3 separate regions of the Homo sapiens genome follow, and regions 2 and 3 are each reported to be linked to region 1. The links are microRNA targets in miRTarBase. Many come from high-throughput screens and were not tested one by one. Region 1 holds a microRNA gene; each other region holds the end of a gene's coding sequence.
Evidence for each region. The annotated mature microRNA hsa-miR-652-3p reads AAUGGCGCCACUAGGGUUGUG and lies in region 1 at 2,432-2,452, opposite strand. An mRNA with a match to its seed (bases 2 to 7 or 8) in the 3' UTR can be bound and repressed. Matches are read on the target gene's strand: a 7mer-m8 pairs with bases 2 to 8, a 7mer-A1 pairs with bases 2 to 7 and ends in A, and an 8mer does both.

Region 2: miRTarBase lists PRPF38A as a target of hsa-miR-652-3p. Seed matches in the 3' UTR shown: 7mer-m8 at 1,424-1,430.
Region 3: miRTarBase lists LBHD1 as a target of hsa-miR-652-3p. The part of its 3' UTR that is shown has no 7-base or 8-base seed match.

The regions. Positions count from the first base shown.
Region 1 is chrX:110,052,445-110,057,840 of GRCh38, reverse strand. MIR652 (microRNA 652) reads right to left here and starts at 2,512; the gene lies at 2,415-2,512. All of the region lies in intron 2 of TMEM164 (transmembrane protein 164), which reads right to left.
Region 2 is chr1:52,416,424-52,421,423 of GRCh38, reverse strand. It overlaps PRPF38A (pre-mRNA processing factor 38A), which reads right to left. Exons shown (of 10, transcript NM_032864.4): 10 at 588-4,776. The coding sequence ends at 4,734. Among named protein-coding and RNA genes, the nearest start is that of PRPF38A, 14 kb to the right of the region's middle. RefSeq lists a silencer at 4,273-4,567.
Region 3 is chr11:62,659,053-62,664,052 of GRCh38, forward strand. LBHD1 (LBH domain containing 1) reads right to left here. Exons shown (of 7, transcript NM_024099.5): 6 at 4,184-4,281; 7 at 3,765-4,107. The coding sequence ends at 4,077. C11orf98 (chromosome 11 open reading frame 98) reads right to left here. Exons shown (of 4, transcript NM_001286086.2): 3 at 4,184-4,281; 4 at 3,765-4,107. The coding sequence ends at 3,998. Among named protein-coding and RNA genes, the nearest start is that of C11orf98, 3.7 kb to the right of the region's middle.

The DNA of each region.
Region 1 (5,396 bases):
AACCCAATTTTAAAATGGGCAAAGGATCTGAATAGACATTTTTCCAAAGAAGGCATACAAATGGACAACAGGTATATGAAAAGGTGCTCAACATCACTAATCATTGGGGATATGCAAATGAAAACCACAGTGAGATCTCATGTCACCCTTGTCAGAATGGCTATTATAAAAAATGCAAAAGATGGCAATATTGGGAAGGGTGTGGAGAAAACAGAACCCTGGAAAACTGCTGATGGAGATCAATAGAGCCATTATCAAAAATAGTATAGTTTCAAAAAAAAAAAAAAAAAAAGACCTATTCTATGACACAGCAATCCCACTTCTGGAATACTTATCCAACAGTTGAAATCAAGATCTCAAAGGGATATCTGCACTCCTATATTCCTTGCACCGTTATTCACAATAGCAAAGATATAGAAACAAGATAAATGTTCATCGATGGATGCATGAATAAAGAAAATGTGGTATATTATCCAGCCTTTAAAAAGAAGGATATCCTATCATTTGCAGTAACACAGAAGGACCCAAAGGACATTATGTTAAGTGAAATGAGCCAGAAAGAAAAATATCTTATGATGTCACATAAATATGAAATGTAAATTAGTCTAACTCATAGAAGCTGAGTATAAAATGATGGTTAGCTGGGGCTGGTGCTGGGAAAGTAAGATGTTAGTCAAAAAGTACAAAGTTTTAGTTTTCCAGGACAAGTAAGTCCTGGATATCTAATGTACAGCATGGCGACTATAGGTGAAAATACTGTACTGTATACTTAAAATTTGCTATAAGAATAGATCCTAAGTATTTCCAACACACACACACACGCATACACACATAAATGATAACTCTATGATGTAATGCATGTGTTATCTTGATTGTGGTGATTTCCATATATATATATAATCATTAAGTTGAAAACCTTAAATATATACATTAAAAATAGCTAAAGTATTAAAAAAACTCAACAATAAAAAGATAAATAACCTTGAACAGACATCTCTCCAAAGAAAACACACGGGTACTCAACATGCACATGAAAAGATGTTCAACATCATTAGTCATCAGGGAAATGCAAATCAAATCCACAATGAGATGACACTTCATACCCACTAGCATGGCCAAAATATAAAAGGCAAACACAAGTGTGCATGAGGATGTGGAGAAATTGGAACCCTTTTATACTGTCGGTAGGGATGTAAAATGATGCTGCCATTTTAGAGAAACAGTCTGGCAGCTCCTTGAGAGGTTAAACATAGAGTTATCATATGACTCAGCAATTCCACTCCTATACCTGGGGGAAATGAAAACCTATGTCCAAGGGAAATAAAAACCTATGTGCACCTGAAAACTTACAGATGTTCACAGAAGTATTATCTGTAATAGCCAAAAGGCAGAAACAACCCAAATGCTCACCAACAGACAAATGGATACATAAAATGTGGCATATCCTTAAAATGGAATATTAATTGGCCATAAAAATAAGTGAAGTACTGATACATGCTAAACACAGATGAATCTCGAAAACATACTAAGTGAAAGAAGCCAGTGGAAAAAGGTCACATATTATAATTACTCAATTTCTATGAAATGTCCAGAATAGATAAAATCTATAGAAACAGAAAGTAGATTAACAATTGCTTAGGGCTGGTGAGTGGGGGAAAGGTAGGGAGGGGGGTGAGCTAAATCGTATGGAGTTATTTTTTGGATGATGAAAATGTTCTAAATTTGACTGTGGTGGTGGTTGCACATATATGTGAATATACTAAAAACATTCAATTGTACACTTTAAATGAATGAATTATATGGTATATGATTATAACCCAATAAAGCTGTTTAAAAAACAAACTTTGGATAGCTCCTTATTGCTTGATAAATAAAAGTCCAAATTCCTTAATTGGGCATTCAACTCCCTCCCCTCCTGCATCATCATTTGACCCCCGACCAGCATCATTGCTCACTACTCCCTTTTACATGCTTTTCTATCCAACCAAGATGAATTATGCACCATTACCCATATATCCCTTGTGGTCTCCCATCTGTCTTTCTTCTCGCTATTCCTTCCCCCTGAGATTCTCTCCTCCTGACTCATCTTCACATGTTAATATTCTACTTCTTTCACAAAGCCCAGTTCAAATGCTCCCTCCTATGCAAACCCCTCCCTGTTCTTCAACCCTCACATAGTAGGCACTTAAAAAACTATTTACTGAAAGAACGAAGGTACGTAGTTCTCCTATATGATGGCTCTCATTTACAGAGAAGATAATTCTCCCAAAGCCACAACTTTACTTCTTTCTTCCTTTCCTGGTCACAGCAGCAGCTCACTGCTTCAGCCCCCTTACCCTGAGGACAATCCCAAACTGGTACCTTGATGAAGAAAGTACTGACATTACATTATGCCAGGGCCGCCGAGTACAGTTGTGTAGGTTGTGCACTGCACAACCCTAGTGGCGCCATTCAATTATAGTCTATGTGAATGGCACCCTCTCCTAGGGTTGTGCAGTGCATAGCCATTCGTGGCGGCCCTGCTTGGAAACATTCCTAGTGTTTGAGAACAAAGCCAAAAAGAACACTCAATGAGAGAATCACTATGTTGTCGCTGAGAAGTAGGCAACTCAAAAATCTTGTCAAGAAAAAAGAAATTCAAGAGAATAGCATGGCCATAGCACACAAACAGCATTTGCATGGAATTGAAAACAGGAACATCCAAGAGAAAAATTGTTACTGATGTTTCTCCAGCAGTGGAGAGAGAACAGGACACACATTCTGGTCACACTACAAAGCTATGACAGACATGCAAAAAGGTACAGTTTTCCATGGACTACCAAAGCCTATATGGTCTCGCTCATGAGACTTTTCAACTCCATTAGGTTCTGATTTTAGGTTATAAAACAGTCCCTGTTTAATTTGGCTTCAGGTACCTTGATATCAGAAAGGGCTGATACACACAAGTGTTCTCATCTCTATAAAGGTCTCTCTCTCATCATCAATCGACTTATCAGCCTGGTGATTTATTAAGAAGTGTTTTGTAATGTTGGGGAGTGTGACCCAATCCACTAGAAACCAACAGCCCTGGGTAAGCTGATAAAAATTAGGCTTTGAACCTACAAACCAAGTTGCAGAGTTAGGACCCGTGTCAACTCCACCAAGGCACAGACACCCTCAAGCTCAGTCAGAGCAGCTGGCCAACTAGCTGGCCAAGTCAAAACTGCAGCCAGTAATTCAGGGCACTCCAAAATGGAGAGCCATAAAGGACTGGACATATTGGTAGTGACAACAGGTGAGCTGGTGGTAGAGCTCAAGGGTGCCAGATGTTGCGTTTGTTTCTTCTTTTTGTTCCCCACTCCAGTTCAGTTCAGCCTCCCACTTTCATATTTGCTCCACCTGGAATATTTCATTCCACTTCTTCTGTCTCCTCTAGAGATTTCCTGGATAAGTCACAAAAATTAAGCATTCTTTTTCTGAACTCCATTGGTATTTGTTGGTACTTATACACTAATCACTTATTAGTCTCATACTGTTGTTAGTAACAACAATAATGGCAGTAGTTATTCCTTACTGAGTGCTTACTAGGTGCCTGGCACTACAGTCAATGTCTTACACATATTAGTTCATATATTCTTCATAGCAATCCTATTATGTAAGAGATTATTATTTTCCTCCTGTTTGCATACAAGGAAACTGAGCTACAGAAAGGTTAAATAAATTGCCTAAGGTCGCACAACTAATAAGTGAGTCAAAGAGTCAGGCCTGGAACCCAAAACTATCTGATTCCAGAGGTCATGTTTGTTGCCAATACTACCTTTTGTCTCCACCATAAGATAATTTATCTTTTCTGGAGTTCCCTCTGCCTCCACTCCACATAGTGCCTAACACACCATCGGACATATAAAAGTCCTCCAGAACACATGCGCACATCTGCCTCTGCTCCCTGTCCAGAGCCCAGCCCAGGACATAAGCTGGAAGAGAAGGGAAGACGGTGTAGTTAGCATGAAGGGGCTTGACCTTTCAGGGAGCCACAGGAGTCCTCCTCCTCTGACCCATTTAAGAGAGGATCATGCTGCTCCTTGACCTCAATCCCAGAAAAATATGTAGAACAGGATGACCTGGTTACCTTGAAACTCGTCAAGAAAACTCTGAAGTAACAGAGCCTAGGCCAACCCATGGGAGGGATGGATGGTATCCAGTTCCCTGAAGCAAGAGGACCAATTGTGTCAGAGTCAAAGCCACATGGGACAGCTAATGTTTGCAGTGCTCCACCACCAATGAACTCTATGGCCAAAGTTGGGGTTTTTATGATGGTGGGGGAGAGGTGTATTTTTTTTAAAAGAAAGTATTTTTTACACCTCCTTAAGCCTCAGTTTTCTCATTGTTTAAAACAGAAATAAGAATACCTACCATTTGCAGTGCTTCTAAGGCATAAAATGAGAATGTAATAAAAGCACCTATTTCCTGGTGCCTACATCAGTTTGTTCTTCCTGAGGTTCTGAGCACACAGTGATGCAGGACATAATTCCTGTCTGCAAGAAGCTCACAGTCTGGCTAGCAAAGGTCTTCTACGGCACCCTGTCAACCAAAATTAAAGCTGGTTGGTGAGTTAGCCTAACTCTCAGCAAGACATTTTATCAAAGGAAAATTTTGGTGGGAAAGAAGGTAAGAGCTGTTGGCAAGAGTAAAGATTGTGGGTTATATCTTTGCTTTCCTATCTTTGCTGCAAATCTCCCATCCACACCTTTGTATTAAAAAATTGGGAAAGGGGACTCCATTAATCACTGTTTTAAAAAATGATGCATGTAGGCCAGGCATGGTGGCTCACGCCTGTAATCCCAGCACTTTGGGAGGCCAAGGTGGGCAGATCATGAGGTGAAAAGATCAAGACCATCCTGGCCAACATGGTGAAACCCCGTCTCTACTAAAAATACAAAAAAATTAGCTGGGCATGGTGGTGCATGCCTGTAGCCCCACCTACTCGGGAGGCTGAGGCAGGAGAATCGCTTGAACCTGGAAGGCGGAAGGTGCAGTCAGCCAAGATGGCGCCACTGCACTCCAGCCTATGCGACAGAGCAAGACTCCGTCTCAAAAAAAAAAAAAAAAAAAAAAACAGATGCATGTAAATGCTGTTCTTTTCCTTCACAACACATATCACCATTTCTCATTTATATTTAGCTATGTTTTCATTAAATGTTGATCTTCCCTGCTGACCATAAGCTTCTGGAGAGCAGGAGCTGTGTGATGGTCCTCACTGTAGGTCCAGAACTTAACACAGTGCCTGGAACATATGAGATGCTCATCAGGTACTTGCTGAATGAATAAATGAAACAAGATGTCTCCATACAATATGGATAGACTTGGTTACCTAAGCAAAAGCCATTTTAGAATATTCAAGCCTTGTTTATGCATGC
Region 2 (5,000 bases), not on the chromosome of region 1:
CCCCTCCTTCAGTAACTGCCAGTGTTCAATAATTGGCAAAACTGTTCTGTTGAAAAACATATAGTTTAAAATTGATATAGTAGAAACTCAGATTTTAAGTCTGCAAAGTAGATTATGAGTTCAGATTCATTGTAGAGCAGTTAAGTAGAAAATTATCAATCTTATACAGGGAGAACACACACATTTAAGACCAAATTGTTTTGAAATGTTCTGTTTAATGACATGGAGATTAGTATTTTCCCTTGACATTAGGGTTATTAAAAATATAAATATGTACTGTATATTTGTTTATATCCCCTACAGATGGACATTTTTGCTGTTTCCAGTTATTCTTATATATACATATTATATATGTAATGTGTAAAATGATGATGGGATAAAGCTATTTGTGTGTACATGTAATTATTCTATTAGGGTAAATTCCCCTAAATGGGATTACTGGGTAAAAGGATCAAAAGTCCTAAGGTTCCTGCTACATATTGCCAAATTGCCCTTCATAAAAGTGGTTATCAATCTGTAGTTCCAGCAAACAATACGTAAAATGTGTTGGTATGCTTATAAAAAAGCTTTTAACTCCCAACAACTCATTTCTTCCTTGTAGAAATTAACATGTTTATTGTAAAAAGAAAATAAGCATTATATAAAAGTACAAAGTTTAAAAATCATTCAAAAGTTCATCAGCCAGAAAGAAGTACTATCTGGTGAACTTCATTCATTCCAACCATCTCTCTTAATCATACAGGCACATATATACAAATAGTTTTACAAAAGTGGGCTCATATGCTATATTTAACAAATATAGCAAATTAACAAAAGGAAAACAAGTGTGAAACTGAAAAAATGCTCAATTTAAATACTTTTTTCCCCACAAGAGAATCTAGTCTTGTAAGATTTCTCCTAAAATTAAGGACAATTACGGAAAACAATAAAGAGGCTATTTTTTTTTCTAGCTTCATGTATGTTTTAATTAGAGACTGTACGTGATTCCTGCTATGAAAGATGAAACCAGCACACTCTACTTGTTATTTCTATATAGACAGTGTTCATAATATTTGACTTTATAATCATTGCCCATTATTTTTAAAGTTTCTGAAGTGTTTACTAACACTCCTTTTACTGATTCTTTGTTCCTAAGTCCTTAATTTGATTCATTTCTTCTTTAGTTGAATTTCATTATTGGGCGGTTTTTTCCCAAAGACTCATGATTTGTACTTTTAAGTTCTTACAAACTTGAGAACATCTATAGCCTTTGTATTTTAAGACAACTTTGGCAAAGTATAAAATTCCTGGCACTTTTTCTCAAACCTTTGGAGCCTTTTGCTTCATTGCCTTCTTGTTATAAGATCTGAGACCATCCTGACCCCATTTAATTCTTTTTTCTTTTTGAGACGGAGTCTCACTCTGTTGCCCAGGCTGGAGTGCAATGGCGCGATCTCGGCTCACTGAAAGCTCCGCCTCCCGGATTCACGCCATTCTCCTGCCTCAGCCTCCCTAGTAGCTCTACCCGCCAGCACACCCAGCTAATTTTTTGTATTTTTAGTAGAGACGGGTTTCACTGTGTTAGCCTGGATGGTCTCGATCTCCTGACCTCATGATCCGTCTGCCTCGGCCTCCCAAAGTGCTGGGATTACAGGCGTGAGCCACCGCACCCGGCCAATTCTTTTTAAACCATCAGAATATTTCTTTATTCTACATATTTCTCTTTTCCATTTTTTATTTCCTCCAGCCTATTTTCTCTGTGCTGTTTTATGTTTTGTGGTTTCTAGTATAAGGCCTTTAAACTCCACCAATCTTATTTTTCATCTCTTAATCTCTTTTGAACTTTTTTTTTTTAAAGAGATCATGTCTGCTGTCTTTTTTGAGCAGGTGGAGAATTTCTGTCACATTAACCTTTTTGAGGGAGTGGGCAATCTGTGATCGTTCTTTTCTAAATAATGCTTATTTAAACTTCGGTCTACTGAAGAATAACAAACAGGAAGAGGTTAGAGGAATGAGCTTGAAGTTGGGTTGTTAATATTGGAACCCTCTCACCAAACCCATTCTTCTTCTTCTTTTTTTTTTTTTTTTGAGATGGAGTTTCGCTCTTTTTGCCCAGGCTGAAGTGCAGTGGCACGATCTCAGCTCACCGCATCCTCTGCCTCCCAGGTTCAAGCGATTCTCCTGCCTCAGCCTCCCAAGTAACTGGGATTACAGGCATGCGCCACCATGCCCGGCTAATTTTGTATTTTTTAGTAGAGACAGGGTTTCTCCATGTTGGCCAGGCTGGTCTCAAACTCCCGACCTCAGGTGATCTGCCCGCCTCGGCCTCCCAAAGTGCTGGGATTACAGGCGTGAGCCACCGCACCTGGCCAAAAATGCATTATTTCTTTTGCCCCTTGGAACACATCTCCCTTACTTTCTTAGTATTAAAAGGCGATTGTGCCCTATGGCAAAGCTTTTAAGTCAGTGTATTTCAAATTATTGGAAGTGAAATCGATTAAGTGGTTTCATCCAATATTAAAAACTGTTAACAAGTAGGAAACACCAGAATTCACTTTGCATAGTAAGTATTCTTTCCTGAAATTTGTCTCAGTACAGAATACAGATGTGTACAGAGGTAAGATGTAAAATACGTTTTTAAAATGTATGCTGTAGTCAAAAAGTTTAAAATGCTTCATCCATAGGCAAGCACATAGATGACAGAAAGAGCCTTACAGCAAGGTTTGTCCTCAAGCTCCATCTCCTGTGTAATTTTATCAAAACGATATCTACAGACATGCAACATGTCTTACTCTTACCTCCTTCTTCTAATTAAAGAATAGGGACATTCTCTTTCCTGCTATTGATTGGCTGTGGTACCTCAATTTTGGTCCACATATTACCATATGTCTAAACAAGTATGTTTTAATGTTTGTTTAGGGAGGTTTATTTCTGTTACTAAAATTTATTGGGCTTTGTGCGTGGGTTTATTTTTACTTTAAAACATATTTTAAGACAAAGTTTTATTTTAAGAGTGTACTGGATGACAGCTTGGTTGGTCCATGGGTCATTTCTGTCCATGCCAGAAGACATTTCTTTCTACCTAGATCACTTTCATAAAGAAATAACTGCTATGACACTGTAATACATTTACGTACAGATGCTTATATTTAATCTTAAAAGGTAGTCCTATATAGTTCTATCAGAAACCGTAAGAGCTCTTTCAGACCACTTTTATTAACTCAGGTATTACGAAAGGAACCATTGAAGAATATGAAAGCTCAAATAAGATTAAAAAATGCTTTAATACTGCTGAAGTCTTTCAATTCTAGAGCAGGCATAGAATATATAGAATGTTTACCTTATGACCAGATACAACCTCCCAAGAAAAACTGGATCCTGCAGGGCAGCTGGTCTTCACAGTTCCTGCTGGGACTACAGTTGCAGAAGTCATTCCATCACTTTTCTCTTTTTAAGGGAGTTAAGTACAGGTAAAGGAACTCTTCTAGCAAAGATCTTAATAATCTCTTGATTATCGATGTCCGTGGAGGCTTTTTAGTCCTTCCTTTGCTTCTGCATTCTTGACCCTTGGCTTCTTTCACTCACTCTCTCCTAATTCTCCTGTCTTTCTGAATGGGCCATTCCAGTTTTCAATAGGTGACTTCTATTTCTTCCTGTGTTGGTGTTGCCTATGGTTCTGTTGTGTGCATTTCTGATATATATTAACACTCTGGGAAGTCTTATTGACAGATTCCACCATTACTTAAACATTGTCAATTCTGGCCTAGATCGCTATGTTAAACTCTGGTCCCTATCTCCAACTTTATGGGCTTTTGTTTTTAGCTATACCATAGCTGTCTCAAATTAAACTTGTTAAACTGAATGCATCATTTTCATTACTACCACCATCCTCTAATTCTCTGCCCCTCTAAAAGCTGTCTCTTCCTGCTGTATTTTCTGACTTTGTGAATGGCACGACTGTCTAGCAATTTAGGTCAAAACCATGACTAATATTAGATACTTTCCTCTCCATCAAATCTTTTTCAATCCCGTTACCCTACTGCTACTGACTAGGCCTGGATAATGTCAATGCTTATATGATAAAGGCTGGATACCTTAACCTGGATTTCAAGCTTGTGGGCAAGAACAAATGAAACTATGAAAAAATGGGCTGTATAAAGGGTATTAAGTGCTGCTCTCTGTTGAACTGTTTGATGAAACTGGCTTTAATGATCCAGAAGCAGCCTTACATTTGAATGCATTCTATTCTTTCAAAACTGCTACAAACCAGTTTTCATGTTTATTACCACTTGCTGCTGCTGGAAAAAAGTTAGGAGCAACTATGTTTTACTCCTTTGATCTTTGAATAACAGCAGCAGCACAAATCCCAGGATTCTCAAAGCAGTTCCAACCACAACAAACCAAAAACTAAACTACAGCGAAATGGGAAACAGGTGTGTCCGGTTTAATAAAAAGGGAAAGGGTCATCAGGTGGCCACAGCCTTTCCTTGTCAGTCATATCCCCAACCTCCAGATCCTTTATACTCTCATAAGTTTGAATACAGTCAAGGTTAGTTGGGTCAAAAACTGATGTTGATTATGATTAAAAAGATACAAAACTCAGCACCTCCTTCATTAAAAATAAAGGTTGAGAAACTTGATAAGAAAAAAACTAAAATATTCTTATAGCTGCCTGGGGGAGATCTTAATCCTTCCACATACAGATATCCTTATATCCACAGGAGGCCATGTGGACTAAAACCAAACTGAGTCCATTACTCATTCCCTCTCCGGCTCTTCTTGTGGCTCTTCTTAGACCTGAAATGGCAACACATATAAATAATTATATTAAGAAGCAGCCAGGCACGGTGGCTCACGCCTGTAATCCCAGCACTTTGGGATGCCAAGGTAGGCAGATCACCTGAGGTCAGGAATTCGAGACCAGCCTGGCCAACATGGTGAAACCCTGTCTCTACTAAAAGTACAAAAATTAGCCGAGCATGGCGGCGGGCACCTGTAATCCCAGCTACTCAGGAGGCTGG
Region 3 (5,000 bases), not on the chromosome of region 1:
ATTCTCCTGCCTCAGCCTCCTAAGTAGCTGAAACTACAGATATGTGCTGCCACACCCAGCTAGTTTTAGTATTGTTAGTAGAGACAGGGTTTCATCATGTTGGCCAGGCTGCTCTAAAACTCCTGATCCCAAGTGATCCGCCCACCTCAGCCTCCCAAAGTGCTGGGATTACAGGCGTGAGCCATCACAACCGGCCAGTTCAATGTCAAAAGAATACTTCTCCTGTGTTTAAAACTGGACATTAGCCGGGCGTGGTGGCTCATGCCTGTAATCCCAACACTTTGGGAGACCGATGCAGGTGGATCATTTGAGCCCAGGAGTTGGAGGCCAGCCTAGGCAAAATGGCGAAGCCATGTCTACAAAAAATAAAAAATGGCCAGGCACGGTGGCTCACACCTGTAATCCCAGCACTTTGGGAGGCCGAGGCAGGCGGATCACGAAGTCAGGAGTTTGAGACCATCCTGTATCTACTAAAACCCTGTCTCTACTAAAGATTAAAAAAACTTAGCCGGGCATGGTGGCGCATGCCTGTAATCCCTGCTACTCGAGAGGCTGAGACAGGAGAATCGCTCTAACCCGGGAGGCGGAGGTTGCAGTGAGCCGAGATCATGCCATTGCATTCCAGCCTGGGCAACAGGGCAAGACTCCGTCTCAAAAAAAAAAAATAAGGCCGGGCGCAGTGGCTCACGCCTGTAATCCCAGCACTTTGGGAGACCAAGGCCGGCAGATCACAAGGTCAGGAGATTGGGACCATCCTGGCTAACATGGTGCAACCCCATCTCTACTGAAAATACAAAAACTTAGCTGGGCGTGGTGGCGTGCACCTGTAGTAATCCCAGCTATTCGGGAGGCTGAGGCAGGAGAATCGCTTGAACCTGGGAGGCGGAGGTTGCAGTGAGCCGAGATTGCGCCACTGCACTACAGCCTGGGTGACAGAGCAACACTCTGTCTCAAAATAAATAAATAAATAAATAAATAAATAAATAACTTTGCTGGCCATGATGGCATGCTCCTGTAGTCCCAGCTACTGGGGAGACTGAGGCGGGAGAATGGCGTGAACCCAGGAGGCGGAGCTTGCAGTGAGCTGAGATTGCGCCACTGCACTCCAGCCTGGGGGACAGAGCGAGACTCAAAAAAAAAAAAAAAAAGAAAAGAAAACAAACAAAAACCACTGAACATTAAGTGAAATATTGCACAGGGAAAACAACTGGACATAATAATTTTTTACTAGTGAAATTGCTGACTCCAAGTTCTTAGGCAGGGAAAGTAATAGGTGAGTCTGGAATATATTATTGTGCCAGAAAGCAATGAAGTGCTCAAATACTGTGGTTGTGTCATAAGGACTTAGGGACCAACTTGAAGAAGCTATTATTTGCCAAACTTGTCATAATTTCAGCATGAAAAAGTGTTAGCAATAAATTATAACATTGGAAAAAATCTGTAAATTCATAGTGATAATAAAAAAGGGGCAGGGCTCTTTTTTGTTGTTGAAAAGTCTTGCTCTGTCACCCAGGCTGGAGTGCAGTGGCACGATCTCGGCTCACTGCAACTTCCCCCTCCCGGGTTCAAGTGATTCTTCTGCCTCAGCCTCCCGAGTATCTGGGACTACAGGTGCAGGCCACCACACCTGACTAATTTTTTGTATTTTCAGTAGAGACGGGGTTTCACCATGTTGGACAGGCTGGTCTTGAACTCCTGACCTCAGGTGATCCCCTGGCCTCAGCTGTCCATAGTGCTGGGATTACAGGAGTGAACCACCATGCATGGCCTGGGCTCTTCTTTATAGAATGTCATAGGAATAATATGAATGAATGAATGAATGAATGACAGTATTGGAAAATCACCATTTTGTAACACAGTAATAACTAATTCAGGTAATGATCATCATGGCTACTAAACCATTGGGTGGGCCAGGCACAGTGGCTCACACCTGTAATCCCAACACTTTGGGAAGCCGAGGTGAGTGGATCATTTGAGGTCAGGAGTTCAAGACCAGCCTGGCCAATATGGTGAAACTCCGCCTCTACTAAAAATACAGAAAAATAGCCGGTGCAGTGGCTCACGCCTGTAATCCCAGCACTTTGGGAGGCTGAGGTGGGCAGATCACCTGAGGTCAGAGTTCGAGACCATCCTGGCCAACATGGTGAAACCCTGTCTCTACTAAAAACACAAAAATTAGGTGGGCGTGGTGGCAGGCGCCTGTAGTCCCAACTACTCAGGAGGCTGAGGCAGGAAAATCCCTTGAACATAGGAGGCGGAGGTTACAGTGAGTCAAGATCGCGCCACTGCACTCCAGCCTGGCGACAGAGCAAGACTCCGTATCAAAATAAAATAAAATAAAATAAAATAAAAATACATATTAGGTATTTAATCAATGTTAAATGTCTTAGCTGTGATTACAGTATTTTGGCTACATAGAAGGATGTCCTTAGGAGTAAGGTTTCATGTTGTCTATATTTGACTTTCAAAGGATTTCATTCAATAAGGACAAGAAAAATGCAGATACAGAAGTGTAGCACAATGTTAATAACTGGTAAATCTAAGTAGAGGGCATATACCAGGGCTCATTTTACTAATCTCTTCTCTTTACTGAAAGTTTTTTTTTTATTATTATTACACCAGTAATCCCAGCACTTTGGGAGGTTAAGGTGGATGGATCGCTTGAGTCCAGGGGTTTGAGACCAGCCTGGGTAAAACTCCATTTCTACAGAAAATTTTTTAAAATTAGTCAGGGGTGGCCGGGCACGGTGGCTCACACCTGTAGTCCCAGCACTTTGGGAGGCCGACGTGGGAAGATCACAGGGTCAGGAGTTCAAGATCAGCCTGGCCAACATACTGAAACCCTGTCTCTACTAAAAAATACAAAAAATAAGCCAGGCCTGGTGGCAGGCGCCTGTAATCCCAGCTACTCAGGAGGCTGAGGCAGGAGAATTGCTTGAACCCGGGAGGCAGAGGGTGCAGTGAGCCAAGATTATGCCATTGCACTCCAGCCGGGGCTACAGTGTGAGACTCTGTCTCAAAAAAAAAAAAATTAAAATAAAATAAATAAATAAATATATATATATATAAATTAAAATGAAAATATAATGCAGCAAAAGAAGTAAGACAGAAGAGGTAAGGTGTCTTGCCTACCTTAGTCACACAGAGGCAGTGGCAGAACTGGTATCAGGACCTTTACCTCTGCTATCCCTACAATTATCTATCTATATTTTTCGAGACAATGGCTCACTCTGTTGCCCAGGCTGGAGTGCAGTGGGACAATCTTGGCTCACTGTAACTTCAACTTCTCGAATAATCTGTATCTTTGTCATAAATGGAAAGTTAGAGTATCACTCACTAAGGAGACAGATGAGATCACAGCACACTACAGCCTTGAGTTCCTGGCCTCAAGCAATACCCCGGTAGGCAATCTCCGCCTCCCGGGTTCAAGCGATTCTCCTGCCTCAGCCTCCAAGTAGCTGGGATTACAGGCGTGCACCACCACGCCCGGCTAATTTTTTGTATTTTTAGTAGAAACGGGGTTAGCCAGGCTGGTCTCGAACTTGTGACCTCAGGTGATCCACCTGCCTCGGCCTCCCAAAGTGCTGGCATTAGAGGCGTGAGCCACTGCACCCGGCCAGGCACCACCACTCTTGAGGGCAGAGGCTGGCATCTTGTTGCATTTGCACAAGGAAGCTGTGGGTACTGCTTCCTCACTGTCTTGTTTCCATACTCCCCAATCTTTTCATGACCCATCCCCATTCCTACATTTAATCACACACATCTCAGAGTGCTAGGGCTTTATTACAAATGGAGTTGACTGCTAGAGAGGCCCTTCTCCAATCTTTCTTCTGTACCTTCTTCCCTCCCAAAGACATCCCTCTAGGGGAGGTCAGTAGGCCATTAGGTAGGAGGAAATCTGGAGAGTGAAAAGGGGCCTTGCTTTTGTCAAAGTCCTCTGAAACAACCACTGAGTCTGAAGGCTGGCTCCAGTTGAGAATCTTCTAGTGGAAGAGGTTTAGCTCTCATCTTCAAGGTCCTTCATTTCTACATCCTGGGGGGCTTTTGTCTTCTTTTGCCTTTTGAGCTGTGGTTCACTAGTCCTGGCTGGCTTTGAAGGGGCTTCCACTGAGTAAAGGGAAGAAGGAAGTATTATCCCAAATAAATCCAGGATTCCCCTCACCCACCTCTGTCCCAGCCTCACCTTCCATGGCTGTCTTCTCTTTCTGGGCAAGCCGGATCTGCTGGAGGAGTTTTCTGCGCTTCTTCCCTGACAGTGTAATGTTGGCACGTGCACTGGACCTGATGGGTAAGTGGAAATAAAGAGAGCTAGGTTAACCTGAACCAACTGAGGTCACACAAATAGTTCTGGCTATAGAAAAAGTATTAAATAGGCTGGGCGCAGTGGCTCACGCCTGTAATCCCAGCACTTTGGGAGGCCGAGGCGGCTGGATCACGAGGTCAGGAGATCGAGACCACGGTGAAACCCTGTCTCTACTAAAAATACAAAACATTAGCTGGGCGCAGTGGCGGGCGCCTGTAGTCCCAGCTACTCGGGAGGCTGCGGCAGGAGAATGGCGTGAACCCAGAAGGCGGAGCTTGCAGTGAGCCGAGATCGCGCCACTGCACTCCAGCCTGGGCGACAAAGCGAGACTCCGTCTCAAAAAAAAAAAAAAAAGGAAAAGTATTAAATAAATATAATATAAATAGTAATAGAAACCCTAAATATTTACATTGAAGAAGCTAATGAAAGGACATAGATCGGGGGCGGTGGCTTATGCCTGTAATCCCAACACTTTGGGAGGCTGAGGTGGGCGGATCACCTGAGGTCAGGAGTTCAAGACCAGCCTGGCCAACATGGTGAAACCCCGTCTCTACTAAAAATACAAAAATTAGCCGGGTGCAGTGGGGAGCACCTGTAATCCCAGCTACTCGGGAGGCTGAGGCAAGAGAATAGCTTAAACCCAGGAGGCAGGGGTTGCAGTGAGCCGAGATCATGCCACTTCACTCCAGCCTGGGCA